Regions from separate parts of the Homo sapiens genome. Here region 2 is linked to region 1. The links come from fine-mapping of genetic effects on gene expression. A gene starts in region 1. The other region holds a variant in brackets. All regions are shown on one strand. Distances are between the middles of the regions.

What was found.
Region 2: its variant is fine-mapped to the expression of DGUOK in lung (TOPMed, PIP above 0.99). The same link has a PIP of 0.9 or more in whole blood.

What each region holds. Positions count from the first base shown.
Region 1 is chr2:73,919,418-73,934,511 of GRCh38, forward strand. It overlaps DGUOK (deoxyguanosine kinase), which reads left to right and starts at 7,463. Exons shown (of 7, transcript NM_080916.3): 1 at 7,463-7,635. The coding sequence starts at 7,494. It overlaps ACTG2 (actin gamma 2, smooth muscle), which reads left to right. Exons shown (of 9, transcript NM_001615.4): 9 at 15-448. The coding sequence ends at 158. RefSeq lists an enhancer at 7,495-7,764.
Region 2 is chr2:73,953,432-73,968,525 of GRCh38, forward strand. It overlaps DGUOK (deoxyguanosine kinase), which reads left to right. Exons shown (of 7, transcript NM_080916.3): 5 at 3,694-3,809; 6 at 4,715-4,814; 7 at 5,279-5,515. The coding sequence ends at 5,305. DGUOK-AS1 (DGUOK antisense RNA 1) reads right to left here. Exons shown (of 2, transcript NR_104030.1): 2 at 4,536-4,776. It also overlaps the pseudogene RNA5SP97. Among named protein-coding and RNA genes, the nearest start is that of DGUOK-AS1, 20 kb to the right of the region's middle. The variant C/CTTAAG (reference allele first, on the strand shown) is at 5,507.

The DNA of each region.
Region 1 (15,094 bases):
TTTGTTCTTTGCAGATTATTGCTCCCCCAGAGCGGAAGTACTCAGTCTGGATCGGGGGCTCTATCCTGGCCTCTCTCTCCACCTTCCAGCAGATGTGGATCAGCAAGCCTGAGTATGATGAGGCAGGGCCCTCCATTGTCCACAGGAAGTGCTTCTAAAGTCAGAACAGGTTCTCCAAGGATCCCCTCGAGACTACTCTGTTACCAGTCATGAAACATTAAAACCTACAAGCCTTACTTCTCTGTGTGGGGCTCTTTTTTCCTGGGCTATGTCTCATACACAGTGCTAAGGACTTTTCACACATTACTTTTAATCCATGCAATAGTGCTGTAAGGTAGGTGCTATCATTATACCCATATTACAGATGAGGAAATTGAGGCTCAGAGAAGTCAAGGACTTGCGAAGATCACACAGATTCCAGATTAAAATTCAAGTATCTGACTGCAAAGCTAGTGCTCCTTCTACTGTGTCATCTTGTTTTCTTTTCCTTGAATATAAGTAAGAATGAGGCTAGATGACTCTTGGGATGGGGGTAGAAACACAGACTTTCAGTGATGTAAGTCCTTGTGCTCTAGGGCAGTTCACTAGGGAATATGAACGCAGTCGTGACATAGGCTTATGGGATGTGACATGAAGAGTTCACATACAATGTTACTGTCACTCACGTGAAGGAGGGTCACCGTGGGCTTAAGATCTCTATGATCTCTATGAGGTTGTCATTGAGGATTAGGCTGTATTTTTTTTTGTTTTTTTTTTGAGACAGAGTCTCACTCTTGCCCAGGTTGTGGTGCAGTGGTACGATCTTGGCTCACTGCAACCTCTGCCTCCTGGGTTCAAGTGATTCTCCTGCCTCAGCCTCCTGAGTAGCTGGGATTACAGGCATGCGCCACCACGCCTGGCTAATTTTTGTATTTTTAGTAGAGATGGGGTTTCACCATGTTGGCCAGTCTGGTCTTGAACTCCTGACCTCAGGTGATCTGCCCACCTTGGCCTCCCAAAGTGCTGGGATTACAAGTGTGAGCCACCGCGCCTGGCCAGGTTGTATTTTGCCCCAAAATTAATTAAGAAAGGAGTAGCATCGTTAGGAAGGACATTTTCTCTCCCTCCCTCTCCTGTTCCTCCTCCTCCTCCTCCTCCTCCTCCTCCTCCTCCCCTCTTTATCAATTTCCTCCCTACCCACTAGGTTAATTTTGTTTAATTTTACAAGTATTTACTGAATTTTTGGCATCTGGAATTGCCGGGTAAGGCCACAAGGGATTTATGTTTCCAACAAAGATGATTCCTGCCCATTAGGGTCTCACTGCATACAGGCAGAGATAGACACATGCATACAAGACAGTGACACGAAGTGAAACAAGCGCCTAAAAGTACTATGAGAAAATAAGGGATGATAATAATAGCTAACATGTATTCAGGCCAGGTTAAGAGTTTTGCATGGATTTCCTCAATTAATCCTCACCACAACCCTATGAGGCAGGTACTAGCATCATTTCCCATTTTATAGCTAGTTTACTGGTTACTAGGTCACCCAGCTAGTTCACCTTAGAACTAGATCCTCACATTGGGCTGGTGCACCTTTCACCTCCCCACCTAGCAAAGTCCCAGCCTTCGTGCCCCCATCAGATCCCACCTGGTCCATGAAGCTTCCCAGACATACCCATTTGGAGACAGTGGAGTCCAGTGGTTAAGCGCAGACACTTCAATGCCAGACATTCCTTTCACCCTCCCAGCACTTGATCTCTGTGGGTGGGGTGGGATGGAGGAGCGGCTTTCATAAGCCCTTAGGGGATTTCTGTGTGAGGACCAGAAGCAGACCCTGAAATGAGGATTCCCTGCAAACGACTTATTAAAGAAGTGCTCTGAGGACAGCTGGTAAGCAGAGTGCGGGGGAGGGGGGCGCAGAAGAGGAAAGGGGAGGAAATCTGTCAAGGGGGTAATTGCAGATAATGTCCTGGAGAGGGCAGCTTCAGCCTGGCCCCGCCCACTGGGAGCTCTGGAGTCTAAGGTTAGCCTGGTGAAGGACAGGGAGCCAGGCTTTCACAGTCCCACCTGCCAGTGGTTGGTGAGGGCGCTCCCTGGGAGGACTGAAGTCCTAGGCTTTCCACCTGTATCGGCAAAGGCCTCCTCCAAAGAAGAGCTGCAGGCTCTGGTTGCTGGAAGAGAAGGCACAGGAGGAGGCGGGAGCGATCTGAGATGTAGGGCACCGACACTGCGCTATAGAGGGGCATCCGGACCTCCACATGGAGAAGGGCAGGCTGCCCAGACTGTTCCCACAAACCCCCCGCACCCATCTGACCTCCCTTCCCCATCCTTCCACCCCTACTCCAGTCTTACTCTATTTCAAGTTTAAAAAATGCTGACCTAGATTCTTCAATGGATATGGAGTTATCCACTGACAGAGAGAGGGACAGTGGCTTGAGGAAAGTGGAAATCCAACTGGAAGTCTATTAAAGATCGACAAAAGTCAGGTGTGATGGTTCACACCAGTAATCCCAGCTACTTGGGACGCTGGGGTGGGAAGATCCTTTGAGCCTAATTCAAACCAGCCTCTGACAAGCGAGACCCTATCAGAGAGAGAGAGAGAGAAACAATGTCCCAGGCACTGAGGGCCTAAGAAGGCAGCCATTACTTATTATGTGTTATATAATGTCTATTGGGTGGTAACTGTGTGGCAGGTGTGGCAGGTGGATTCTCTCTCTTAATCCTCACCCCCAGGTCACTGGAATCCAGAGCCCACACTGTTAACCACCTTTTGATACGTCTCCCTTTATGATTAGGTGTATCAATACAGTTCATTCAGGGGAGCAGAGCCATTATGGGTATTATGGGAATAAGGGCTTTATTACAGGAATGACACTTTCCCCAAAGACTGAAGGAGCTGGAAAAGTGAAAGTCTGCAAGGAACTGTGGGATACTCCAAGAGGAGTCACAAATGGGTGGAGGACTAGGTGAAACCTATCTGCTGGGCACCTCTGTCTGTCATAGCATCTGACTAGAAGATTTCCACAGAGGAATGGCTGACACTCCCACTCTGCCTTCCAAATCTCACCCCAGGTCCTCTTTTGGCCAACTCTAACTCAGAGCCTTGTTGGTAGGGCGTTCTGGAAGTGTACTTTCCAATTTAACCAAATCGATTTAGCACAATCCAGCACATTATAAAATCTTCAAAGTAGGTGAGATATAGCTGGCTAAAAGTCCAGGCTGCAGAATAAAGTTTGGGCCACATTTTTGTATGTTTATCTCCCTTTTTTAATGGCTGCATGACATTTTAAATAATATTGGTCAGTATTTTATGTATACGGTAGCATTTAGAAACACTGGAAAAATAGTAAATCCTTCAGAGCTGCACTTCAAGGACTAAGCAGAGTGTCTGGCATGCAGTAGATGCTCAGCAAATATTGGATGAATGAATGGATGCTGAATGACTAGAGTTCTTGCAGGACAACATTTTGCCCAGGACAAAATCGCCCAGGGGCAGGAAGTGGCCTCGTTCTCCCAGGTAAGGGGGAGGTAATTCTACTCACCAATATGCCACTACTTTCAGTCTTCTGGCTAGCACCCAAATGGGATGAAAACTCCGTGTTTACTGCTTCGAAGAGGAAATGATCACCACCTCTTTGGGGTGTCTTCTTTCCTCATGAAGATCCCCTTAATTGTACTTCCTCATGTGCAAAAGTGGGGCCCCAACCCTCTTCCTTGGCCACAGCTGATTGAACCATGATTAGATACCTGAACACAGCTGGGCCAATCAGATTCTCCCTTCTGGGAATTTGGAATTGGGACCTAAATAAATAAAAAACATTTAACAAAACAAGCATAGATAACTAAAGGGGGGTAGAAAGATTATTACTAATGAATTAAGATAACTGACAGGCAACTTAGGCAAAAGATATTTTAGTTTCTTACATTACACTCTACATCAAAAAAATTTTGAATGTTTTTAGAGGCTGGGTGCTGTGGCTCATACCTGTAATCCCAGCACTTTGGGAGGCAGAGGTGGGTGGATAACTTGAGGCCAGGAGCTCAAGAGCAGCCAGGCCAACATAGCAAAACCCCGTCTCTACTAAAAATACAAAAAATTAGTCGGGCATGGCACATGCCTGTAATCCCAGCTACTTGGGAGGCTGAAGCATGAGAATCGCTTGAATCTAGGAGATGGAGGTTGCAGTGAGCCAAGATTGCCCCACTGCACTCCAGCCTGGGCAAGAGACTCTGTCTCAACACAAGAAAAGAAAAGAAAAGAAAAGAAAAGAAAAGAAAAGAAAAGAAAAGAAAAGAAAAGAAGCAAACCACAGAGATAAAATATTCACAAAGGACTCATCCAGAATATTTGAAGAATAAGACAAGCAAAAGACAACCAATAGAAAAATGGACATAAGACTTCAACAGAGGATACTGAAATGACCAATAAACATACAAAAAGATGTTTGACTTCATTAATCAGCAGGAAAATGCAAATTAAAACCACAATAAGTTATAATTACACACAGCAAAATGGATAAAATTTAAAAAGCTGACAATATCAACTGTTGGTAAGAATGTGGGAAAACCAGAACTCTCTCTCACTGATGATGGCAATGTCAACTAGAACAAACACTGTGGAACTATCTACTATTTGGGAATATCTATCAAAGCTGAGCATATATATGTAACTTATTACACAGCAGTTCCAGTCTTACTTATACACCCAAGAGAAATGCATACTTCTTTTTACCAAAAGACATGTACAAGAATATTTACCGCAACACTATTCATTATGGCTCAAATCTAGAAACTTCCGAGTACATTGTGGTATAGTGACATTGTGGAATACTATACAGCAATGAGAATGAGTGAACTACAACTAATACATTCAACCTGGATGAATCTCACAGATATGTTAAATAAAAGAAGTATTTACTATATAATTCCATTTATATAAAGAAAACGCAAAACTAATCTCTACTGTTGAAGTCAGGCTAATGGTTATCTTTGAGGGATAGTAACTGGCAACGAATATGGGGGATTCTGGAGATGCGGATAATGCTGTTTCTTGATCTGAATCCAGGTAACAGTCATTCCATTTGTGAAAACTTCATTGAACTGTACACTTACAACACATCCTCTTTTCCTCACTGCACAACACATCCTCTTTTCCTCACTACATACTATGCTTTACCATAATTTTTTTTTTTTTTTTTTTTTGAGACGGAGTCTCGCTCTGTCGCCCAGGCTGGAGCACAGTGGCGCGATCTCGGCTCACTGCAAGCTCCGCCTCCCCGGTTCAGGCCATTCTCCTGCCTCAGCCTCCTGAGTAGCTGGGACTACAGGAGCCCACCACCACACTCCGCTTTTTTTTTTTTCTCTCTCTTTAGTAGAGACAGGGTTTCACCATGTTAGCCAGGATGGTCTTGATCTCCTGACCTCGTGATCCGCCCTCGTCAGCCTCCCAAAGTGCTGGGATTACAGGCGTGAGCCACCGCGCCAGGCCACTTCACCATAAAATTTTTAAAAATAATTTTTAGGAGCTCTGTTACTGGTGGAGGGTGCCCAGGTTCTTGACATTTTGAACAAAGAATTGGACAAAACGTACAAAGCAAGGAAACAATGAAGCAACAAAAGCACAGATTTATTGTACATCAAAGAACACTCCTTGCGGTAGGAAGGGCCCAAGCAAGCAGCAATTACAGAATTTTCTGGGGTTTAAATACCTTCTAGAGGTTTCCCATTGGTTACCTGGTGTACACCCTATGTAAATGAAGTAGTGGCCAGCGATCAGTCTGATTGGTTGCAGGAGGGGACCAATCAGAGGCTGAAGTAAAGTTATGAAGTTATACCCCATGCAACTAAAGACTTGGCCTGCCACCAGCCTGACTGATTGCCCGCGGGGACCAGTCAGAGGTACTTTCAATTTTTTATCTGCCACCCAGAAGAGGGATTAGCTTCTGGTCCTTTTGTTACTTGGGCTAGAAAGTTGGGGTTTTCCTTTTGATTTAGTTCTAGGAAGTCAGCCTAAATCGGCCTTAGGTTCCCTGTCTCCAGACCCTATTTTCCTGCCTCGTAGCTTTTAGGAGATTAATGCCTGCCTGCAGACAACTTCCTCATTTAACTTTCACAACACCCCTGAGGCAGCAAGATCCTGGCGAGGCAGAGAGCCTCTCAAGCTTTTTTGGATGAATATTTTCCAAGTCTGAGTTTACATAGGTAAAGAAATGTAAGCAGTTTTTTTTTTGTTTTTTGTTTTGTTTTGTTTTGTTTTGTTTTGTTTTAACAGAAGTGGCTGCTGGAGTGGAGATGGGAATGGGTAGGACTTTAGCCGCTCCAGTAGCCATTAACGCCCCACCCTGGTTATCCTTAAAAAATTCGATTAAAAAAAAAGTTCTTAATATATAAACATGACCTCAGCCATCCTATATATACATCAACATAAGAAAAAGGTCCCGTGCTTTTTATGGGAACAGCTTCAAGACAGGTATCCCAGCCCCCGGCCCCTCCCCAGCCCCCTTGCAATCAGATCCTTGTCTTCTAAAACCTGCCACACCTAAGAGCGCTGCCTGAAGGCCGGTTTGGCCTGTTGACTCCTGGTTTTGACTGTTGGTGATTTAAGCGATTGGAACTGGAAGCACCATTTGACAACATTTTGTAAATCATTACTTCTGAGGTTGTTATGACGACGGGGTGTGGCAGTCCGGCTTCACCTGTGGCAGCAGCTTAGGTCCCTGCCCTCCTGCAGAGCACACTTCACCGACAGCAGGACTCAGGTTTTATACAAGTCTCTACTCGCCATTGCTTACGTCCAAGAACCCAGCCTACCAGGTTTAAACAATTTCCAGTCACATACCTGAGCCACCACCACCTTATCCTGAAGGGATTTTTGGGTATAATGCAAATCGATTGACCGAACATTTATTTACTTATTCAAGACACAAACTAAGAGATGGGGTGTAACTGATTATCTAATTTGTTAATTTAGTCAATAATATGCCAGCATTGTGCAGGGGAATTACAGGGAATAGGAAAAAGTTAAATTTGTGTAAATCATCAGATTGAGTCATTTTCCTACTTTAAAACTTCCATTTTCTTCCGATATTAAAATAAAAACCAGACAACAAGCACCTGGGGGGGGGGAAATCCCCTCTTAAAATTACAATTTCTATTTTTAATTTTGTCTTCAGTTATAAAATTTATTTTAAAGTTATACAAAAATGAAGTGGTTGGATTGTGGAATTACGTCTTTTAAAATGTTATTTGTCCAATGAACAAAAACCACTCGCACCGCAACTCCTTTTACTATCAAATTCTGCACCGTTGCAAAACTTCCTTCACTCAACGCTTCTTTACAAACATCGCGATAGCGGAGCGGTCTCTTGGGCGCACCCCGCCGCATGTTCAACCCCACCCACTTCCTGTCTGACGATCTCCTTACGTCAACGGTGCGCTGGAGCGAGTGAGCAGCGATACCTAGGGCGGAAGTGCTCTCGGCGGAAGTGATCGCTGTGTGAATCGTGGGTGGGATGGCCGCGGGCCGCCTCTTTCTAAGTCGGCTTCGAGCACCCTTCAGTTCCATGGCCAAGAGCCCACTCGAGGGCGTTTCCTCCTCCAGAGGCCTGCACGCGGGGCGCGGGCCCCGAAGGCTCTCCATCGAAGGCAACATTGGTAAGGGCCGGAAAGCGGCTGCCAAGCCTTGGCCTCCGCCACGCAGGCGACAGAGGCTGGGAAAGGAGCTGGGCCCGGAATGGCCTGCGTCTGATGCGGCCGGCCTCTTTTTCTGGGCTGCGAGGAGAGCCTTTCCCCTCGCAAAGTGCACTGTGTATCTTTGCCTCCTTGTTTTTAGGATATCGGGCCTCAGTACCCGCCCACAGGAACATATTTGTTGGGGCATAAAAGCCACGCAGTTAGTGGATAGGACAAGAATTGTATTAGCTGTTTGTAATAGATCGAAATTGAAGCGACAAGCGGGTGCAGTTTATTTGTTCTCCTAGATAGGGTTGCCATATTTAGCAGAAATTAAAAATAATATCCAGTTAAAATAGAATTTAAGATAACGAATAATTTTTAGTGTGTGTCCAATGCAATATTTGGGACATCCTTACAGCAAAACAACAACGAAATCACTCATTGAAAGTTCAAATTTAACTGTGTCCTGTATTTTATCTGGCAACCCTATTCGAAGAGAGTTCCTAAATTTCAGTCGTTCAAATACCACATTCACAATTTTTGCCCTGTGCCTGTGCTAGTTGCATAATAATTTCTTAAGGCTTTTCTTAGAAGAACCTCACTTTTTAAACTTAAAAACATGTATTAAATTAAAAATTATTTTGTTAAAAGAGTGAGATCCAGTATCTTGAATAAAAAGTAGTCAGAAAGCAAAATGAAGGCAAAGCATTTCGATTTAATATTAATAAATTCTGACTTGATACTTTTATCTACCAAGTCACTGAGCCCCTAAAAGGGGCTTAGCAAGTGTTGAGTACTGAAGACGTAGCAGCAAACTGAGAATTTCTTTTTTTATTCATTCAACAAATCACCTTTTGAGCCACTTCCATATGCCAGCACTGTTCTTGGCCTGGAGAATACAGCTGTGAATAGAACAAATAAAAATCTCTGCTCTCATGGAACTCAAGTAGGGAGAGATGGACAATAAACAACATAAATTAAGCAAGGTGAACAATATGTTAGAGAGTAATAAGTATGATGGAGAAAAATTAGGGATGAAGAATTGAGGGAAGTTTTTATTTTATTTTATTTGAGATGGAGTTTTGCTCTTGTTACCCAGGCTGGAGTGCAATGACACGATCTCGACTCACTGCAACCTCTGCCTCCCTGGTTCAAGCGATTCTCCTGCCTCAGCCTCCCGAATAGCTGGGATTAGGGGCACCCGCCACCACACCCAGTTAATTTTTGTTTTGTTAGTAGAGACAGGGTTTCACCATGTTGGCCAGGCTGGTCTCAAACTCCTAACCTCAGGTGATCCGCCTGCCTCGGCCTCCCAAAGTGCTGGGATTATAGGCGTTAGCCACTGCACCTGGCCGAAGTTGTCATTTTAAATAAAATAAGCAAGGCCTCACTGAGAAGGTGACATCTGAGCAAAAAACTGAAGATGAGGGAGCAAATCACGTGGATACCTGGGAGAAGAATCTTCTAGGCAGAGTGAAGAGCAATTGGAAAGGCCCTGAGGTGGAAAGTGTGTTCGGGGAATAGGAGGGAAATCGTTGTGACTGAAGTCGAGTGAGCAAGGATGGGAGGGAAATTAGGGCAAAAGCCCAAGGGGTGGCCAGATTTTATAGGCCTTATCATGGGTTTTTAATCTTACCGAGATGGGTAGCCATTGGAAGGTTTGAGGAGTCAAGTGACAGTTTTACTTAGATTATAAAAAGATCACTGTGGCTGATAACATTGAAAGTGAAGAGTGTTAAGTGGTATTGCAATAATTATAGTATTGTGAAAAGTGAAAGTGGTGAGACGTGATTGGATTCTAGTTATACGTTAACAAAAATTGAGTTACATTTTAAGTAAAATTTAACAGTGGAAGTGGTGAGAAATGATTGGGTTCTAGTTATATTTTAAGATAGGGCCAATTGGATTTGGTGACAGGTTGAATGCAGAGTGTAAGGTAAAGAGAGGGGCCAATGATGACTCCAATTATTTTGACTTGAGTACTTGAAAGATAGACTCCTGATTTTCTTTTATTTCCTCCTCTCCTTCTTCCTCCCCTCCCCTCGCTTCCCCTCCTTTGGTGTGGTCTTGCCCTGTTGCCAGGCTAGAATACAGTGATGCAATTGCATCTCACTGCAGCCTGCCTCCCAGGCTCAAGCCATCCTCCCACCTTAGCCTCTTGAGTAGCTGGATCCACAGGTGTTTGCCACTATGCGTGGCTAATTTTGTATATTTTTTGTAGAGACAGGGTCTCACTATATTTTCCAGGCTGGTCTTGATCTCCTGGGCTCAATTGATCCTCCTGCCTTGGCTTCCCAAAGTGCTGGGATTACAGAAGTGAGCCTTGGTTTTAAGCATGTTAGGTTTTTACATGCCTATTAATATCCAAGTAGAGGTGTTGAATAGGTAATTGGATATGTAAGTTCAGAATTAGGGTCTCCCCGGACTGGAGCTGTAAATGTAGGTGGTATTTAATGCCAGAGACTATGTGTTGATGGAAAGGACTGAGCCCTGAGCATGCAAATATTATGAAACTGGGGAGATGGGAAGGAATAAGCAGAGACTGAGAAGGAATGCCTACTGAGGTAGGAGAAAAAAACAAAAGAGAATGATATCCTGGAAGCCAAGTGAAGAAGGTATTCAGTGGGAGGGAATGATCAGCTGTGTTATACTGTTTAAGTAAATGAAGGTCTTTGGTGAACTTGAAAAGAACAGTTTTAGGAGTGTTAGGAGTGAAAGCCTAATTGGTATAGGTTCAAGGAGAATGGGAGGTGAGGAGAGTGGGTTAAGATAACTGGAAGTTTTTAGAAAGGGAAGTCATGGGGTGGTAGCTGAAATTAGAAGAGGGTGTGAGTGTTTAACATTTTTAATTTTCTTTTTGTGAAAAGAATTAGAGCATGTTTTTAAGTTGACAGAAGTGGTCTAGTGGAAAGGAGGAAAATTGGTAAATCGGGACAGAGGATAGAATTGCTGGAGTGATTTTTAAGCAAGAAAGAATGGAATCTATTGCCCAGTGGGAAATAATTTAGTCTTAGCTAGGAGCACAATTCATCCCTAGTAACAGGCGTGATGGCAAAATATATGAGCACCAACTTCAGAGGGTGTGGTGGGAACTTGGGAAGGTCTTTTGGTTGTGTCTGTTTTCAGAGTGAAGTAGGAAGAAAGGTCATCAGCTAAGAGTGAATGTAGAGACAGAAGACATGAAATACTCTAGTGAATAAGCAAGAGAAATGTTGAATTACTGGGTACCATTTAGGACCCACTTGGAGTTAGTGGTCATGAATTTAAAGTGAGACCAGTCACCATGGCTGTGTGTTTTTCTCCAGCCAAATCCGAAACATTGAAAGGAATGGGAAGGGAGAGTCCTGCTATTTGCCTGATGATGTTATTATTTAAATATGATGTTTTGTACTGTACTTTGAGAAACACACCCCTAAAGGAAGCTCTGTCCTCAAATCCCAGAGAGAGAACAGGGTATGTCACAAAGTAAGTACTTAGGACAGGTCATCAGATAAGGTTTGAACTCCCTCTATTTTCCTGACTTTTGCTTCTTAACCTTGTCAAATTTCTCTGCTTCTTCCTTGCTTTCTTGTGCAACAGAGGCTTACTGAGTGAGGACTAAGAGTCCACTCTCATGCTGAGCACAGCAGTGAATGGGATACAGCTCCTGTCCTTCAAGGAGCTCACAACTCACAACTAAGTAGGAGAAAACAGATTCGACATAATTTTCTTTTTTTTTTTCTTTTTTTTTTTTTTTTTTTGAGACAGAGTCTTGCTCTGGCACCCAGGCTGCAGTGCAGTGGTGTGATCTTGGCTCACTGCAGCCTCCGCCTCCCAGGTTCACGCCATTCTCCTGCCTCAGGCTCCCAAGTAGCTGGGACTACAGGCGCCCGCCACCATGCCCAGCTAATTTCTTGTATTTTTTAGTAGAGACGGGGTTTCACCATGTTAGCCAGGATGGTCTCAATCTCCTGACCTCGTGATCCGCCAGCTTCGGCCTCCCAAAGTGCTGGGATTATAGGCGTTAGCCACCGTGCCTGGCCGACTCGACATAATTTTCATACTGTGTGGTGAGATTTGTGATTGGGCATGGAAAGCCAGAATCTCTGGGGTAGGAATTCCCAAGAGGAAGAAGAGGGAAAAGTGTTTCAGCCATAGAAAGCAACATGTGCCAAGGTGGTGAAGCCTGAAGAAACACATGCAGTTTTTTGGGGGTTTTTTTGTTTGTTTGTTTGTTTTTTTGATGGAGTCTCATTCTGTCACCCAGGCTGGAGTGCAGTGGTGTGATCTCATCTCACTGCAACCTCCGCTTCCCAGGTTCAAGTGATTCTCCTGTCTCAGCCTCCCAAGTAGCTGAGACTACAGGCATGTGCCACCACGCCTAGCTAACACATGCAGTTTTAATGAAAGAGAAGTAGTTGGATGTGCCTGGAGTTGAAGGGACCTGTGAAAGGGTGGCAGAACAAGAGGTTGGAAGGGTGGGATTTGCCATATGTCGAAGAGCCTTGTGGACCATGCTAGTTTATCCTGTTGGCAGTGGGAGGCTGTTGAACACTTGAAGCCAGTGTGTGCCATGACCAGATTAATTTAAAAAAGGAAATTGTGTAGGATGAGAAAGAAAGCTCCATAAAACAGGCACTTTCTTTGTATATTTTGTTTGCTGCAGTACCCATAGTGCCTTGCATCCAGTTTGTTGGATGAATGAATAGATGAATTGGAACAGAGTTGAGTCTGTGCACTAGTTTTGTGGCTATTGGAGTAATTGGAGGGAGGAAAGATGCAGGCCTGAATAGAAGAACTGAAATGACAGAGAAGTGACGGTTTCAGAGAGATTTTGGAAGCGGGATTGACAGGATGTGGTGGCCACTTGGAGGTGAGGTAGGAGGAGGAGTAGAGGAGGGTGACACTGAGGTTCATGAGGATGGGAATAAAGGAAGAGGCGGTCTGGGGAGGTTAGAGTGATATGTTTTGTATGAGGTGCCTGTGAGACATAGAGGTGTTCTGAGACAGATTGGAATATGTGCCTGAGGTCAAGAGAGTCCGGAGATGGGTGCTGAGATTTCAGATGTGGAAGTTGTTGACTGGTGGGTAGAGGGGTAGTTGGTGAAGCCTTGGAAGTAAATGCAATTGCCCAAGAAAAGGGTGATGCGAAGTGGAATGGGAGGACCTAATCTGACTCTTTTTACTTTCATCTCCCACTACTCTTCATCACCCCACACACCCTGATGACTCTCCCTAGACAGAATTAGTCACTGCCTCCTCTGTGGGCTGACATAACATTTTGTACCCACAACTGCTGCAGCACTTGAGTTCTGCTGAGCTTGTTTGCACATTCACCACCTTCCTTGGGCTCTGACCACTCAGTGTGCTGTTCATCTTTGTATTGCTGACACCTAACCCCCGCCTTGACCCAGTGTACTCAGTACTGACCAGATTCTTGAATCCTGTGCTATGATATCCATGTGGAAGTTAGGCATTGGTACCCACACAGGGAATGTATTAAACTGCTTTTTAAATCAAGAGTGATCATCTTCTCTAATCACAGGTAACATCCTCAAGCAAATCAGAATGAGAGCACCCATTCAGGAAACCTGAACAGGGAAGGTGAACCCCTGTCCTGACCAAAATTGGGTATGTTTAGAGGGCTTTTCTTGTATTCCTTCTGCTCTAAGTCCTATTATTCTGATCCTGAAGGTGCAGACAGCGGCATGTAAGGAAAATTGATCAGTGAAGTAGCAACTAATGGCATCTAGCATGACTTACGAAGCCATATAAGATGTGTGATTGAAAGTCAAAAGCTTGGTACCTAGAACCCCTGAAAATCTAAAAAATAAAACACCTAGCCTGTCTTTTAAGACTGTTCATCCCTACAGTGTATTATCATCTTCTTGTGATTATCTTACGATTACAAGCGTAAATTGAAGAAAAGATTGCTGTATGAAATCTCACTGTCAGTGAGTCATCTCAGCATTTTTACCTTATTTTCAAAGACCCAACCAGAAAAGAGGAAACTCTTTTGCACTTTTCAATCAAGAAACTTAAACATAAAGCAGTAGAGGGCTTCCCTAATAACATGTTTCCTCCAGCATTCAAAATTAGTGACTTCACATCACTAATATGTGTCTTACTTATTTTAAGTATAAATGATTGGGCAAAGAATCCTTGGGAAAAAATAGCCTATTTATTTCAAATACTGTATAGTGGATTCTCTGTGCCTGTGACTCACCTCCTTCCCTCCATCACTGTTCTCATACTCAGGATGCAAAGGTTCAGTCTCTGTCTTCAAAAGTGAGCTCCCAGTCTAGCTGGAGGGAGTGATGAGTGAACAAATAATTACAGCGTAATCCTTTGGTAAACCAGAGCAGGCAGTAATTAACTCTGCCTAGAGATGAAGTGGCGCTGGAGAGAGTTCAAGGAGGCTTCACAGAGAAGGTGGCAGTGGAAAGCTGAATCACCTGGTAGGCAAGGCGGGAGGAGGGGATGTCAGATCAGTGAGGGTCTTTTGTGCTGAGCAGATGAGTTTGGATCATAGGAAGGTGTGAGAAAATTTTTTGCCTTTTTTTTTTCGTAAACAGTTTTTCATGAAAAAAGGTCATCAAAGTAAAATGTATTAAGTTTTTTTTAAGCCTGCTGACTGATTTTTATTAACTTTGCCTAGAATGCCTTTAAGCTTGGAGCCTGTATGATCCTGGGTACTCAGTCTTGGGGTTGGAATATAACTTGAGGGCAAGCTCTCAGCCTAGATCATCATTTCAGTTATAGTACTTACCTCTGAGTAGCTACTCCATAAACATTTGTTGATTGAATGAGTGAGTGAATGAATGCAGCATCAAATACAGTATCTGAAATAAAGACTTCAATTTTTTTTGGAAGGACTTTTTAAAAAAGACATTAGACAGTTTTATATGTTCTGACTTTGTTGGATTTTGGTAAAAGATTTCAGAATTGGATTTTTTTTCTCATGTTTTTCATCTTGTTCAGGAGATGAAAATGCCTAGAGGTGATAAATATAGGCTCCTATGAAATACAGCTGTATTAGACGTAAAATAATGGGATCTGTTATTTTGGGTATTACATCATATGCTATCTTGCTGCTAGATTTTAGCATTACATAGCTATGGTAGGCATTGTCAGTTTATAGAAAATTTTGTGGGGAGAAAAAAACATGCCTTAGAAAAAGATGAGTGGTAACAACAGAACTCTTTGTCCCAGCTTGTGGAATGAGAATAGTGGAGCTAATGAAAATCAACATGTTGAAGTAATATACTCTTAAGAAAGTACCTTCCACCTTTTTTTAAGGTTGTGGCAATATAACAACAGAGAACACTGGTGGCCAGGGTCCTAAGGGAAGGTTTGATGCTGCTTGTAAGTTCTGATACCTTCCAAAATTCATAATACTGAGAGTATATTGAAAGACAGGCCGGGCGATGTGGCTAACCCCTGTCATCCCAGCACTTTG
Region 2 (15,094 bases), 34 kb after region 1:
TCATTTTGAGATTAGATGGGGATTTTAATGCTGTTTTGATGGCATTAGTTCCAGAGATGCAGGAATGCCCATGTTTCTTCCCTGAAGTCACACTTGACCTCTTCTGTGAAATTCAGAGGTAACTGTGCCCAAGGGAAGAGCAGAATAGAAGTTGTCCTGTCACTATGTAAAAAGCTGTGCAAGTGCCCAATCTTCCAGTTCAGAGCCCTCGTAAATACTGAGTTTCGAGCATGTCAGATGGACTTCGTAGGTCCTTCTGCTCCTTTCTACCTATTCTTCCCTAACTTCTTTTTTTTTTTTTTTTTTTTTTGAGACAGAGTTTTGCTCTGTTGCCCAGGCTGGAGTGGCACGATCTCTGCTCACTGCAAGCTCCGCCTCCCGGGTTCACAGCATTCTCCTGCCTCAGCCTCCCGAGTAGCTGGGACTACAGGCACCCGCCACCACACCCGGCTAATTTTTTTTTGTATTTTTAGTAGAGACGGGGTTTCACCATGTTAGCCAGGATGGTCTCGATCTCCTGACGTGATCCGCCCGCCTCGGCCTCCCAAAGTGCTGGGATTACAGGCATGAGCCACCGCGTCTGGCCCCCTAACTTCTTAAAAGCCAGCAAGCCGGGCCAGACTGGACCAGGCGGGTGCAGTGGCTCATGCCTGCAATGCCAGCACTTTGGGAGACCAAGGTGGGAGGACTGCTTGAGCCCAGGAGTTTAAGACCCACCTGGGCAACATAGTGAGAGCCCCCTGCCCTCTACAAAAAATTTAAAAATTAGCCAAGCATGGTGGTGTGTCTGTATTCCCAGCTACTCAGCAGGCTGAGGTGGGATATCACTTGAGCCTGGGAGATTGAGGCTGCAGTGAGTCAGGATTACACCACTGCATTTCAGCCTAGGCCACAAAGCAAGACCCTGTCTCAAATAAATGAATAAATAAATTTTTTTTTTTAGAAAAGGCAACTCAGGCCGGGCACGGTGACTCACGCCTGTAATCCCAGCACTTTGGGAGGCTGAGATGGGAGGATTGCTTGAGGCCAGGAGCTCAAGACGAGCATGGTCAACATAGGGAGACCCCATCTCTAAAAATTTTTTTTAAAACACAAGCAAGCTAACAATTTTAAAACTCAAAAGAGAAATAGCTAGGCCTCAGTGTTCCTAGCCAGCCCCATGGAATCAAGAGAGTGCAGCTGATCAATGTACATCAAAAAGCCAGGCCCTACCTGGGACTGGCACAGCATGGGGACAGCATGCAGGAGGTGCATGGGACAAATGGCACCTGGGTTTGGGCTTGAGAGGCATAGTGAAAAGACCCACTAGCAGTCACTTTCCATTTTCTGTTTCTGACTCCAAGCAAGCAGAGCAGCAGTTCTTCTTCCTGGGTGGGACAGGTTAAGAAGACCAGTAAAGGGTCTCTCCCTCGCCACTTGTAGCTACACTATCTTTCCTGTTCACATTCAGGTGTGTCTTCCTCATGAGGACTGAGATGAAGAGGGGTCAGACTAAAGCACTGTTTGCACGGGATTTTTTTAAATAGAATTTGTTATAGCGATATCAGTAAAGCAAGAGTTATGCCAAATGCTCATAGTAGGAGTTTACTTCGACCTCTTTTTTTTTCCCCACTCAATACTGCCACCAGTTAAGACTTAGACTTCTCAGGGAAATCCATTTGCTCTGTTAAGGAAATTAATAGTAAATAGAAATATGTTAGCTTATTTTAATAGATCAATGTTAGTGTCAAGGTTTGTCTGCAAGCAGTGAATGAATAATTATAAATAGCTTTCCTAAAAAGAATTGTTCTGCCTTTGTGTGTGTACTTGGAAACATAAAGTCACATTTTAAAAAAATTTATTTTCACGAAACAGACAACATTTTTTTTCTCAGAAAGGAAAATGAGATGATAGCTTTGCTATGCTTAGAAATCCTAAAGCTACCTTTCTGGTGGGAATATAAATTGGTTAACCTCTAAGGAGGCAGTCTGGCAGTATATAATTGCAAGTGCATATACCTTTTGATCATTAATAAAATTTGTTTCTATAATTTCATTTCCTTAGAGAAAAGGTAAGATAAGAGGGAAACAGCAAAGACTCCCAAGTCTTTGGGATTATTGTGTACTACATTTGGAAATTAAGTTTTCATTTCTTAAGTAAGTTATTGAAAGAGGGAAGTCCTGGCCGGGCACGGTGGCTCACGCCTGTAATCCCAGCATTTTGAGAAGCCGAAGCGGGCAGATCACGATGCCAAGAGATCGAGACCATCCTGGCCGACATGGTGAAACCCCATCTCTACTAAAAATACAAAAAATTAGTTGGGCGTGGTGGCTCCCGCCTGTAGTCCCAGCTACTTGAGAGGCTGAGGCAAGAGAATCACTTGAACCTGGGAGGCAGAGGTTGCAGTGAGCTGAGATCGCGCCACTGCACTCCAGCCTGGCAACAGAGCAAGACTCTGTCTCAAAAAAAAAGAGTGAAGTCCTAAATCAGTGGGTTAATCCATCTGTTCTTCCAGGACAGATGATATTGAATAATGAAATGTTTGTCAAGCAGAGAGAGGACTGAGGATAATTCAGTCAAAACAAACATTTGGAGCAAAAATTTTGAGGTGTGAAAGAGCCTGGCCTGTTCCCCAGGAAAGAGGTCAAATCTGGCTAAAGCAGTGAGTCCAGGGGAAGAGCTAAGGCAGTTGAGAAGTAGGAGGGGTAGCTTTGTGTGACAGGTAAAGAAGATGTCATTTTCTGAGCCAGTGTGCATCAAACTTCACTACCAGATGAATGCAGAATAGAATTATGTACACTCTGCAAAGCAGCGGGGGAGGAGAGTTAGTCTCAAGCCTCACTTGTTTTTCCACTTCTTTGTTTTATCTTTGACCTGTGCAAATTTTACATTCTATTCCTGAGTGAATGTTTGGTATGACATGAAAGAGATATTTCAAATTACCTAACATTTTATAAATGCAATGCTATTCATACATACTGCTTTGAACCCTGGGGCTATGGCTGTAGGCGGTAAAGAGCCTGTGAAGTATTTTCAGCAAGGAAAGTCATGTCATTATATTGCCGTACTACAGACGGGTGGAGTGAAGGGGAAAAACTGGAAGGAGGGAACAGCTTTTGCCAGGAGCTCAATACAACTTACCTCAGTGACCTGTGGATGGGTAGACAATGAGGAAATAGAAGCCCACAAGGACTGCACTGCTAGTACCTTATGAAGGCAGGAATTTACTCCTGGACTTTCTGACCTTAAGGCCTGTACTCTGTCCATATGCTTCCCTGCCTCCAGGAGGCAGAACCAGAAGGCTCTTGCCATAATCCAGGTAAGAAGTAAAGAGGACCCGACCAGGGCAGAGGTGAGAGGAGAGGCAAGGAGAGAACATTCTAGAGAGATGAAAGAGAATTGAGTGACTTCCCAGATATAGTAGGGAGAAGGAAAAACAAGGAAAATTCCAGGTCCGTGGCTTGGATGACTGGATGGATGATGTTCATCATTAACCGACTTAGGATACTTCAGAGGAAGAGCAGGTTTAAGGTGGAGATGGGAAAAGAATGGTGTAGATCCTCTGATTGCATAAGAAAACAAGACAGCAGAAGCAAAGGCATGGCTTGTAATGCCCAAGATAGACATTATGGGTGGGCCTCAGAGCCCCCGAAGACTGCATTGTAGCAGCCAAAACAGCAAAGAGCTCATCAGGGCTTGGGGACTGTCTTTTAGGTTTGTTTGAAGAGACTGTACCAGAGGGCCAGGGAGGAGGAGAAAGGAATTGAGCTGGCCTATCTAGAGCAGCTGCATGGCCAACACGAAGCCTGGCTTATTCACAAGACAACGAAGTAAGTGGGGAGAAAAGAATGTATCAGAGACAGAGACCTGGCTCCCAACAGCCAGTTGTTAAAAACAAGTTCAGCATGCAGCCCCCTGTAGGAAGGTTCAGAATATACTGGAAATGGTTGGAAATGTCAAGCATTTTCCAACTCAGAAGTTTAATATTGCTGGACACCGTGGCTCACGCCTGTAATCCCAGCACTTTGGGAGGCTGAGGCAGTCACCTGAGGTCAGGATTCAAGACCAGCCTGGCCAACATGGTGAAACCCTGTCTCTACTAAAAATAGAAAAATTAGCCAGGTGTGGTGTCAGGCGCCTGTAATACCAGCTACTCGGGAGGCTGAGGCAGGAGAATCGCTTGAACCTGGGAGGCAAAGATTGCGGTGAGCCGAGATCGCACCACTGTACTCCAGCCTGGGCGACAGAGTGAGATGCCCAGAAGAAGTTTAATATTGAATATAATCTTTACATTCCAAGGGCCTTTTTATTAGATTGTATTTCTCCAGCTTTTTCTTTGTTTCTTAACATTTCCCTAGACTGAACATTGTGATTGATGGTGATAGTTGGCTCAGCATGAAGGGCTGAAAATGTTAGAGAAATTGTCAGTATTACTAAGTTGGCATTCCTGGTTTCTGCCTGTCCTCCCTTTAGGCTTGGTTTGTTGTCCACTTAAAATGTTTGGTGCTCTGACTGTTTGTTAGTATCACTCTCAAGAATGAAGAGAAACCTCAACCTTTCTGTTTCCGGCCAACTTTATTGAATTTGTTTTTTTAAATGCAGTTTACATGCAGTTTCTTTGAAAAGTCATGTTGAATTTAGATCTGTTCTCTGAGTAAGACTTGGCGAGTATGTGAAACTTGACTCAAGTTACATTTCTTTTTTTCTGTCCCCCAAACGTTCACGCTTCTTATAGGCTCCACTTTGAGGCTCTGATGAACATTCCAGTGCTGGTGTTGGATGTCAATGATGATTTTTCTGAGGAAGTAACCAAACAAGAAGACCTCATGAGAGAGGTGGGAAGGACTTTAACTCCTGTTTTCTGGTGGTTTCCTTTGTTGTACTTTTATCTTTCTGGCCTTTGCTTCAAAGTTCAATATCATGGGTCTTGTGCTTTGCATCTCACATTGCATTTCACACTCCAAGGCCTATGGAATCTTGTGCAGATTACAAATATCCCTATTCTCTAAAGTATGCTGGACTAATAATTGTTAAATAATTGACTTGTAACATGTGCTTGCCAGCTGACTTTCTTCTCTAAGGCATCCTAAAACTAGGGAAATGAGACTACTGGATTCTATTCCCAGCTCTGCCACTTGATGCTATATGACCCTGGGCTGCCCACATTTCTTCTCCATGCCTATTATTTTCCTTTCCTCACAAAAACCTCATGGGCTTGGCTGCATATGCATTGGGGGTGGACCATTGAAAATTCTGTTAAAAATGTGAAATTAAACTTCTGATTTTCTCCTTCCCACAGGTAAACACCTTTGTAAAGAATCTGTAACCAATACCATGAAGTTCAGGCTGTGATCTGGGCTCCCTGACTTTCTGAAGCTAGAAAAATGTTGTGTCTCCCAACCACCTTTCCATCCCCAGCCCCTCTCATCCCTGGAGCACTCTGCCGCTCAAGAGCTGGTTTGTTAATTATTGTTAGACTTTGCCATTGTTTTCTTTTGTACCTGAAGCATTTTGAAAATAAAGTTTA[C/CTTAAG]TTAAGTTATGCTTGTTTTTCTAATTCAGTTGCTCATTTATTTCAGCATGTATCTCTTGGTGCTTGCTCTAAATTCACCTCTAGACTAGTGTATTAGTCCGTTTTCACACTGCTATAAAGATACTACCTGAGGCTGGGTAATTTCTAAAGGAAAGAGGTTTAATCGATTCACAGTTTCGCATGGTGGGGGAGGCCTCAGGAAACTTACAATCATGGCAGAGGGGAAACAGGCACATCTCACATGGTGGCAGGTGAATGAGCGAGTGCAAGAAAGAGCAGGGAAACCTGCCTTATAAAACCATTAGATCTTTTGAGAGCTCACTGCCATGAGAACAGCATGGGGGACCTGTCCCGGTGATACAGTCGCCTCCCACCAAGTCTCTCCCTTGACACCTGGGGATTACAATTCAAGATGAGATTTGGCTGGGGACACAAAGCCTAACCATATCAACTAGCAATTTTCAAATTGCTCCCAGAACTCTAACCCAAGCCCTACCTGCCATGCATGAAGAAGGGAAATAAAGTGGCTCAAGAGTGGGTGGGATCTTAAATGTGAGCCCCCCAGAGCAGGAAATGGAGCATGAACTCCAGGAAGCTTCTTTATCTCTTCCCATCTGCCACTCTTGACATAGGGGACAGGTGTGGGGAACTTAAACCCTTGTCCTAGAGCTAAAGAACCTGGCCAAAAGAAAAAGGTAGAAAACAGCAAGAACCCAAAAGTTAAGCATCTGACATTTAAGATTGGCCCGCCCGGCACTCTATCTTTGTCTAAATACCTTACCCAATGACTTCCAGATAACGTTAATGGAGTGGATCTCTCTGTGCAGGAAAAAAAAAAAAAAAATTTTTTGTTGTGCTCTTTACCCTTCAAATAGAATTTATTGTTAAGGGAAGAAAAATACATGGCTCTATAGGATTGAAGTGCTCCATTGCCAGAAGCCTGCAGGTCCATGATTCACAGGAGCAGATCTGCACTGAACCCTTGACGGTTCTGCAGGTACACAGGAAGATGAATGATCTGGGGACGTAAGAGTGCCCCAGAAGACAGAAATCTGTGTTTCTGTCCTTTATGCTTTGGGGAAATGAATGTGAGATTGGTTTCTAACAAATACATAGGCCAGGCAAGGTGGCTTACACCTGTAATGCCAGCACTTTGGGAGACCAAGGCAGGTGGATCACCTGAGGTCAGCAGTTCAAGACCAGTCTGGGCAACATGGCAAAACCCCATCTCTACCAAAAATACAAAATTTATCCGGGCGTGGTGGTGTATGCCTGTAATCCCAGCTACTTGAGAGGCTGAGGCAGGAAAATCGCTTGAACCCAGGAGGCGGAGGTTGCAGTGAGCTGAGATCACACCACTGCACTCTAGCCTGGGCGACAAGAACGAAACTCTGTCTCAAAAAAAAAAAAAAAAAGTAATGTTTTAATATAAAAGTATGGCAATTTCCTTATCCTACTTATTTAAAACATTTTAATAGCTTTATTGATACATAATTCACATATTATACAATTCACTCATCTAAACTGTACGATTCAGGCCACACACAGTGGCTCACACCTGTAATCCCAGAGATTTGAGAGGCCAAAGTAAGAGAATTGCTTGAGGCCAGGAGTTTGAGACCAGCCTAGGTAACATAACGAGAGGCCAGCTCTCCAAAAAAGTAAAAATTAAAAAAATAAGCCAGGTGTGGTGGAGTGAGCCTGTAGTCCTAGCTACTTGGGAGGCTGAGGTGGGAGGATCGCTTGAACCCAGGAGGCTGCAGTGAGCTATGATCCTGCCACTGCACTTGTAGGTGACAGAGCGAGACTCTATCTCTTAAAAATAAAGTGTACAGGCCAGGCGTGGTGGCTCACGCCTGTAATCCCAGCATTTTGGGAGGCTGAGGCAGGTGGATCAACTGAGGTCAGGAGTTTGAGACCAGCCTGGCCAACATGGTGAAACCCCGTCTCCAATAAAAATACAAAAAATTAGCCGGGTGTGGTGGTGTGTGCCTGTAATCCTAGCTACTCAGGAGGCAGAGCAGGAGGATCGCTTGAACCCAGGAGGCAGAGGTTGCAGTGAGCCAAGATCGCACCACTGCACTCCAGCCTGGGCAACAAGAGCAAAACTCCATCTCAATAAATAAATAAATAAAAACAAAAAATAAAGTATACAATTCAATAGTTTGTAGTATAGTAGTCATGGGGCTGTATAACCAATACCACAATTCCAGAACATTTTCATCACCCCAAAAAGAAAGCCCATACCCCATCTCCCCCAAGTTTCCCTGCTGCCAACTCCCAGCCCTAGGCAACAACCAGTCTACTTTTGTCTCTGTAGATTTGCCTATTCCTGCAATTTCATATGAATAGAATCATACTATGTTGTCTCCTGTAACTTTTTTTTTTAACTGAGCATAATGTTTTCAAAGTTCATCCAAGTGGTAACATGTATCAGTACTTCGTTCCTTTCTTCCCCCACAACAGTCTCACTGTGTTGCCCAGGCTGGAGTGCAGTGGTGCAGTCACAGCTCACTGCGGCCTTGAACTCCTGGGCTCAAGCCATCCTCCTACTTCAGCCTCCTGAGTAGTTGAGACTATAGGTGCACACCACCGCGCCCACTAATTATTTTATTTTTAGTAGAGACTGTCTCACTATGTTGCCCAGGCTGGTCTCCAACTTCTGGTGTCAAGTGATTCTCCTGCCTCAGCCTTCCAAAGTGCTAGGATTACAGATGTAAGCCACTACACTCTTCACCTAGTTTTAAAGCCTGAAAGTCTACAAATTCAGCATCTCTATTGGTAAATATTGCCTTTTAGAAAGTAAACGTTGGCTGGGCACTGTGGCTCAAGCCTGTAATCCCAGCACCTAGGGAGGCCGAGGCGGGCGGATAACTTGAAGTCAGGAGTTCGAGACCAGCCTGGCCAACAAGGTGAAACCCCATCTCTACTAAAAATCAGAAATTAGCTGAGCATGGTAGTGCAGGCCTATAGTCCCAGCTACTCGGGAGGCTGAGGCAGAAGAATTGCTTGAACTGGGAGGCAGAGGCTGCAGTGAGCCGAGATTGCACCACTGCCCCCTAGCCTGGGTGACAGAGCGAGATTCTGTCTCAAAAAAAAAAAAAGTAAATATCCTCTAGGATAGTGCGGGCCATCAACAGTGTAACCTAGGTGATATTTGTCATTTTCCAAATTTGTAGCCGAGATCATCTGTAGAGAGTAAACATATTAATGAGCAGCAGTAATTTTGAATCTTAAATTGTGGGGGAGGGACAAGTAGGTCTGGGTGGAGCCTGTAAGTGTGCAGATTAGGACCACAGGAAGGCAGGCTGAAACCTTGGGCACCGTGGGTTTTTAAAGTGGACGCTAGAGAGTGGAGGTCACACTAAAACGGTCCCTACTCTACACTCAGGCCAGTCTGGATGGCTGTTATTCTTGGTTTAGGCCAACTCCCAGCGTCAAAAAATTTGGATTAACACATAAGAAATAGCTGCATTTCTTTCTGGCTTACGATGTGGTAAAACCTGCTGTTCTGGAACCTGAATATTACCTTGATGGGTTTATAACAAGGATCAAGGTTGTGAAAGTTCTCAAACTCTCAGAAGGTGATAATTTCAAGTAAAAGAGATTGTTTGTTATATGCAAATACCAGAATCACAGAGGAAGTGATGCAACGAAATAACATGCACTTTAAAATTTTAATACTATTTAACCTTCTTCAGCCCTCACTTAAATAGCAGTTTACATTTTCTGAACCACTTTCTCCTTCATGGGTCTCTCCTGGCTCCCCTACATTTGATGCCTCCCCTTCTGCTTCCTGGGCTGCCATCTTTTTCTCTTTTCCTCGAAAGTGTTGGTGTCCCCAAGGTACCCTTGGCTCATTTCTGTCTTCGTCCACTCCCTCTGCGTGATCTTGGATTTGTTTTCTATCACTGCCATTATCAAATTACCACAAATGTAACAGCTTAAAGCAGCATACATTTATTATCTTACAGCTCTGGAGGTCAGAACTCTGACATGGGTCTCACTGGGACAAAATCAAGTTATCAACAGGGCTGCTTTTCTTTCTGGAGTTTCTAGAGGAGACTCCGTTTCTTTACCTTTTCTGTCTTCTAGAAGCTGCCCACATTCCTTGGCTTGTGGCCCCTTCATCTTCAAAGCCAGTAGTGTTGCATCTCTAACCACAGCCAGGAATCCTTCTCTGCTTTCAAGGACCCACGTGATTACACTGGCCCCCTCTGGGAAATCTAAGCTGCGGGGTGGGAGGGAGGCTGCTATTCTGCTTTCCGCAGATCTCAAACACTATCATGGCTCCTACTATTCTCATGGGGTGAAGACTTCTTATGAACTTGGAAATTTTATGGAAAATGTGAATCATATGCAAGAGGGAATGGTATCAAGCACCCCTGTACCCCCATACCCACATTCTAGCCCAATCAGCCTAAGATCACCAGAAACGAACCTTGAGTTTGAGAAGGTCAGATTGCAATGAGGAAGACCACATACCAGAGGAACTGTGGGGCATCTCACCAAACAGGAAAATATACCGTTACAGGATTTTAAGGAAAACTAGAGTTTTGGTAAAATTGAATGAAGCATTGTTTGGATAGGTGCAAAGCAAAGCAGGACTGTGTATAAAGGAGTCTGTTCTGAACTGTTCGGTGAACTCAGGTTTGTTTCCCTAGAAAGTACAAAGTTAAGACAAACATGGAATTTGTGTTCAGAAGCTCCTTACGTGAAACTCTGAACCTGGCTTGGAAACCAAGACAACTTCTCTGTGTCAAAGTGACTTAGAATCTTCTGGCCAAAAAAAAAAAAAAAAGGAATTTTTACTGATAACATTTAACATTTCACACAGCAAAGTTTTTACTGATAACATTTAACATTTCACACAGCAAAGTTTCTGATAGTTCATGATTTTAAAGAACAAGGTTTCTCTATGAGTCAGAAAGCAGTAGTCACACAAGGAAAGGGGTCATTATGACACTTTACGGCTACAACGTGCTCGTGGGAGAAATACTGTTTCATGGTAACTTTTGTGACTGGCTTTAGCTGTGTAATGTCCTCCCAGCCTGTTGAGTCGCAGGGCAGCTTTTTACCTTCTTAGCATGAGCCAACTTCGACTTTCTCGCCAACTTCGACTTTCTCGCCAACTTCGACTTTCTCACCCACTTCGGTTATCTACTCAGAACCAATCTGGTTTCACCTACAGCCTACCCCCACTCTCATTATTCTGAAGCAAATCCCAAACAGGAGGATGTCTTTTAAAGCTAGAGCTATATCAAACTATGGATTTCACAACCCGGATCCCTTATGCTCAATGGGTACAAAACAGTTCTCCCCACCCGCATACCCACCACCAACCCTACCCCAACCCAGCCAGCAAAGCCATTTCCCCTGCTTCTCCATTCACCCCGTTGGCCACATTAAAAACCTTGGTGTTATCTTTGACCCCCCACTTACACTCATTCTCAACAAATTCTGCCTATTCATCTCTGAAATCTTTCAAATCTTCTCTGCACCTGTTTCTGTCTCTCTAGTTGAAGGTGTAGTGGAAATTGTGGTTGACTCCCCAGCATTCATCCCACCTCTCCTCCTCTTCCATAGCAGTCATATGGTCCCCATTGTAGCAGTGGCCATGCCTAGGAATGGCAGGAATGGCCCCTCCCCTGCCCCCCAATTACTACTACCAGTAATCATTTCTTCCCCAAGCCACATCAACTAAATGATGTATAAAAAAGAACAGTGGTTGCTAGGTCAGGTCACCTGCCCCACCCCTGCCACCAGAGAGCTGCCCCTCAGCCTCTCCTATGTGGAGGTATGAGAGCTACCATGTTTTTATAACCCTATCTCCCATCACTCCTACCATAAACCCCACGAGACCACCCATAGCTTCAGATGTGTTTTCCCACATGACAAAATGTTTCTCTCTCTCTCTTTCTCTCCCACCCCCCACCCACCACCCCAAGCTTTTACACTGGAAGAACTACTCACCCTGCCAGGCCCAAGCCCACCATTCCTCTCTCTGTGGAGCCCTTCCCTCACCCCACACCATGTCCAGTCTTTGTGCCCTTGAGCACCCTGTTTATTAAACTTCTGTCAAACGTGTCATACCTGAATGAAAGTTGTCTGGAGACATCTCTTTGATGTCCTTGGCCTTGACCTTCTTGACATAGACCATGTCTTGGTCATTTAGTACAATGCCTGGCATTTATTTATTTATTGCTGTTTCATGAGTGCCTAACATAGACTTTTAAATAAAGAAATTATTGACTGGAGACACGCTCCGCCCTTTCTCAGGTTCCTGGGTTATTTGTGAGCTCTATATTACGATCATCAATTGAGGAAGTCCCTTCTGTGTACTAAGCACTGAGAATATGCAAGAAATTTGGGGCCTGGACTCTACTCTTAAATTGTCAAAGGAGTTGATGATTATCAGATGCCTACTGTGTGCCAGCTACCCTACTGAACACTTTCTAAATGTTATTCAACCCTCTCAATAATCCTGTGAAGGAGGTTTAAGGTGCCAGTTTTTACCAGTGAGGAAACTGAAGCTCAGAGTTCAGTAACTCAACGAGAGTCCCACAGTAACTGACAGCGCTGGGACTCACACCTAGGTCCATCCTGACTCCAGAGCCTGTTCTCTGCATAACACCAAACCATTACATAAGGGAGATAAGACTAGATTTTCAGAAAAGAAGGCAAGCAAGCATTTCCTTGGCTGCCTGTCTGGATTTACCAGCCAAATTTTGTAGCCTGGGCAGGAAAACCTAGTTTGCCAGCACTGCTAGGTGGAGGCCACCAGGTGCATCTTAGCTGTGCCTTTGGCCCCTGGGTCCCTGAACAGGTGGAGAGATGTTTCTGGGGGGCTAGATTTTCTCTTCTCAGCAACTGCACCTTCATAAAGTGCCCTTCAGGCACTAGCCATTAGAATGTATGTGGAAGCTTGGTGAAGGTTCTGGAGTGTCTTTACAGATGCCTTCTACTCCACTTCCCAGCTCACCCTTTATGTTGCTATCAGATGATTTTCTTAAAACACCTTTATTTTTTTTAAATTTATTTTTATTTTTATTTTTTGAGACAGCGTTGCTCTGTCGCCCAGGCCAGAGTGCAGTGGCATGATCTCAGCTCGCTGCAACCTCCGCCCCCTGGGTTCAAGTGATTCTCCTGCCTCAGCCTCCCACGTAGCTGGGACTGCAGGTGCACACTACCATGCCTGGCTAATTTTTTTTTTTTTTTTTTTTTTGGTATTTTTAGTAAACACCACCATGTTGGCTAGGCTGGTCTCAAATTCCTGACCTCAAGTGATCCACGCACTTCAGCCTCCCAAAGTGCTGGGACTGCAGGTGTGAGCCACCACACCCAGCCTAAAAACCTTTAATCATGTTAATATTCTTCTTTAAAAATGTTGGTGGCCGGGCGTGGTGGCTCACACCTGTAATCCCAGCACTTTGGGGGGCTGAGGTGGGCAGATCATGAGATCTGGAGTTCGAGACCAGTCTGCATAGAGAAACCCCATCTCTACTAAAAATACAAAATTAGCTGGGTGTGGTGGCGCATGCCTGTAATCCCAGCTGCTTGGGAGGCTGAGGCAGGAGAATCATTTGAACTCAGGAGGCGGAGGTTGTGGTGAGCAAAGATGGTGCCATTGCACTCCAGCCTGGGCAACAAAAGCGAAACTCCAACTCAAAAAAAAAAAAAAAAAGTTGGTATCCAAATGCACAGTGGTATCCTGAATTGGATCCTGGAACAGATCAAGTTCGTTAGTGGAAAATACTAGTGAAATCCAAATCAAGTCTGGAGTTTAATTGATGTAACTTGTCAGTTTTCACAAGTGTACCATGTCATGTGAGATGTTAGCATTAGGGGAATCTGGATGAGGGATACACAGAAACTCTGTGTTGTCTTTGCAATTTTTCTGTAAATCTAAAATTATTCCAAAATAAAAATCATTAAAACAATGTTGATACCTCTTAGAAGATGATGACCAGGCTCCTTAAGTGGGCTTTTGGAGCCCTCCAGCCTTATCTTTCCCCACCCCTGTGAAAGAATCCTCTGTTCTTGCTAAATGGTTTCACTTACTGTCCTCTTAACAATGTCTGTGCTCTCCTAGACTCCACTTTTGCCTTAGCCATGTACCCTGTTGGACTGATATGCCACTAGTCACAGTCCTTAATCGCAAACAGCAGGAAGTTACTGTGAACCTAAGGAAGCTTAGGTTTTAGGGTGCATCACTTGCAAGTCCCCAGGAGGGTCCACTATGGCTGTTATGAGAATGTGATTTCCCTGTCATTACTACTGCTGTCACAGAATACTCCTCATGGACCCAAGACTCTGGTAGGTACATCTGACTTGCAGAACCTAGACCACATGCCCTTGACATGCCAAGTACGTGCAAGGGAGTCTGAGAAATACAGTATCTGACATCACATCTTCGTTGTGAGAGGTGGGGTCTATCCCCAACCAAGGTGAATAAGTCCTCAGACACAGGAAGGGGAATGATTTACTAGTTCTCCAAAAAGAATGGCAGATGTTTACTACAGATGGGTTTTCTAGAACCAAATCTTCCATTAGGAACCACTGGGCTTAGGTAACATTTGTTACCTAAGCTGAAACTCCAGCTTGGTTTGGCCTGGAGACTCCATGGTACAAACTGTGTTCCTATATTTCATTCACTACACCAGAGTGAAGGGAACTTCATCTCCTGAGGACACTTGAATTAAAATCTTTCAAATGAAAAGGGCCCAGCCGTGCATGGTGGCTCACACCTGTAATCTCTTGGCACTTTCAGAGGCCAAGGCAGGTGGATCATTTAAGGTCAGGAGTTCGAGACCAGCCTGACCAACATGGTGAAACCCTGTCTCTGCTAAAAATACAAAAACAATTAGCTGGGCGTGGTTGCATGCACCTGTAATCCCAGCTACTTGGGAGTCTGAGGCAGAAGAATCGCTTGAACCTGGGAGGTGGAGGTTGCAGTGAGCTGAGATCTTGCTACTGCACTCTAGGCTGGGCTACAAGAGCAAAACTCTGTCAAAAAAAAAAAAAAAAAAAAAAGGAAGGAAGGAAGGAAAGAAAAGGGCCCATGTGCATGTCTTTAAGATCAGCTATGCAAAAGGCAACATAGGAAAGGTTATATCCTACTGTGAAGCTGGGAGTATTCCCCAAGGCAAGAAAGGTTTCTGGGAGAAGACCCTGTATTATTCTCTTATCCAATACTAACCAGGCCCGACCCTGCTTAACTTCCAAGATCAGATGAGATCAGGTGCATTCAGGGTGGCATGACAGTAGATCCTGTATTCTCTATATCAGCAGTGACCCCATCATCCTTCCAGCCACCCAGCTAGAAAACTAGGATCCTCTGACTCCTCTCTGTCACTCATCTCCAGCAGCCAGGCAAATGTCTGGTGCTACCAATTTCCCGCTAACATTTCTCAGATCTGCCTGCTCTCCTACCTCCACTCCTAACCCAGCCCTCCCACCCAGGCTCTCTGCCTCTTGCTATGGCCTCCCCAAATCCCTACTCCACAGAGGAGCCAGAGGGCCTTGAACGCCACCAGGTGCCTCCAGAATGTGCCTTTGGCCCCCCGGGGGCCCTGAGCAAGCACACAT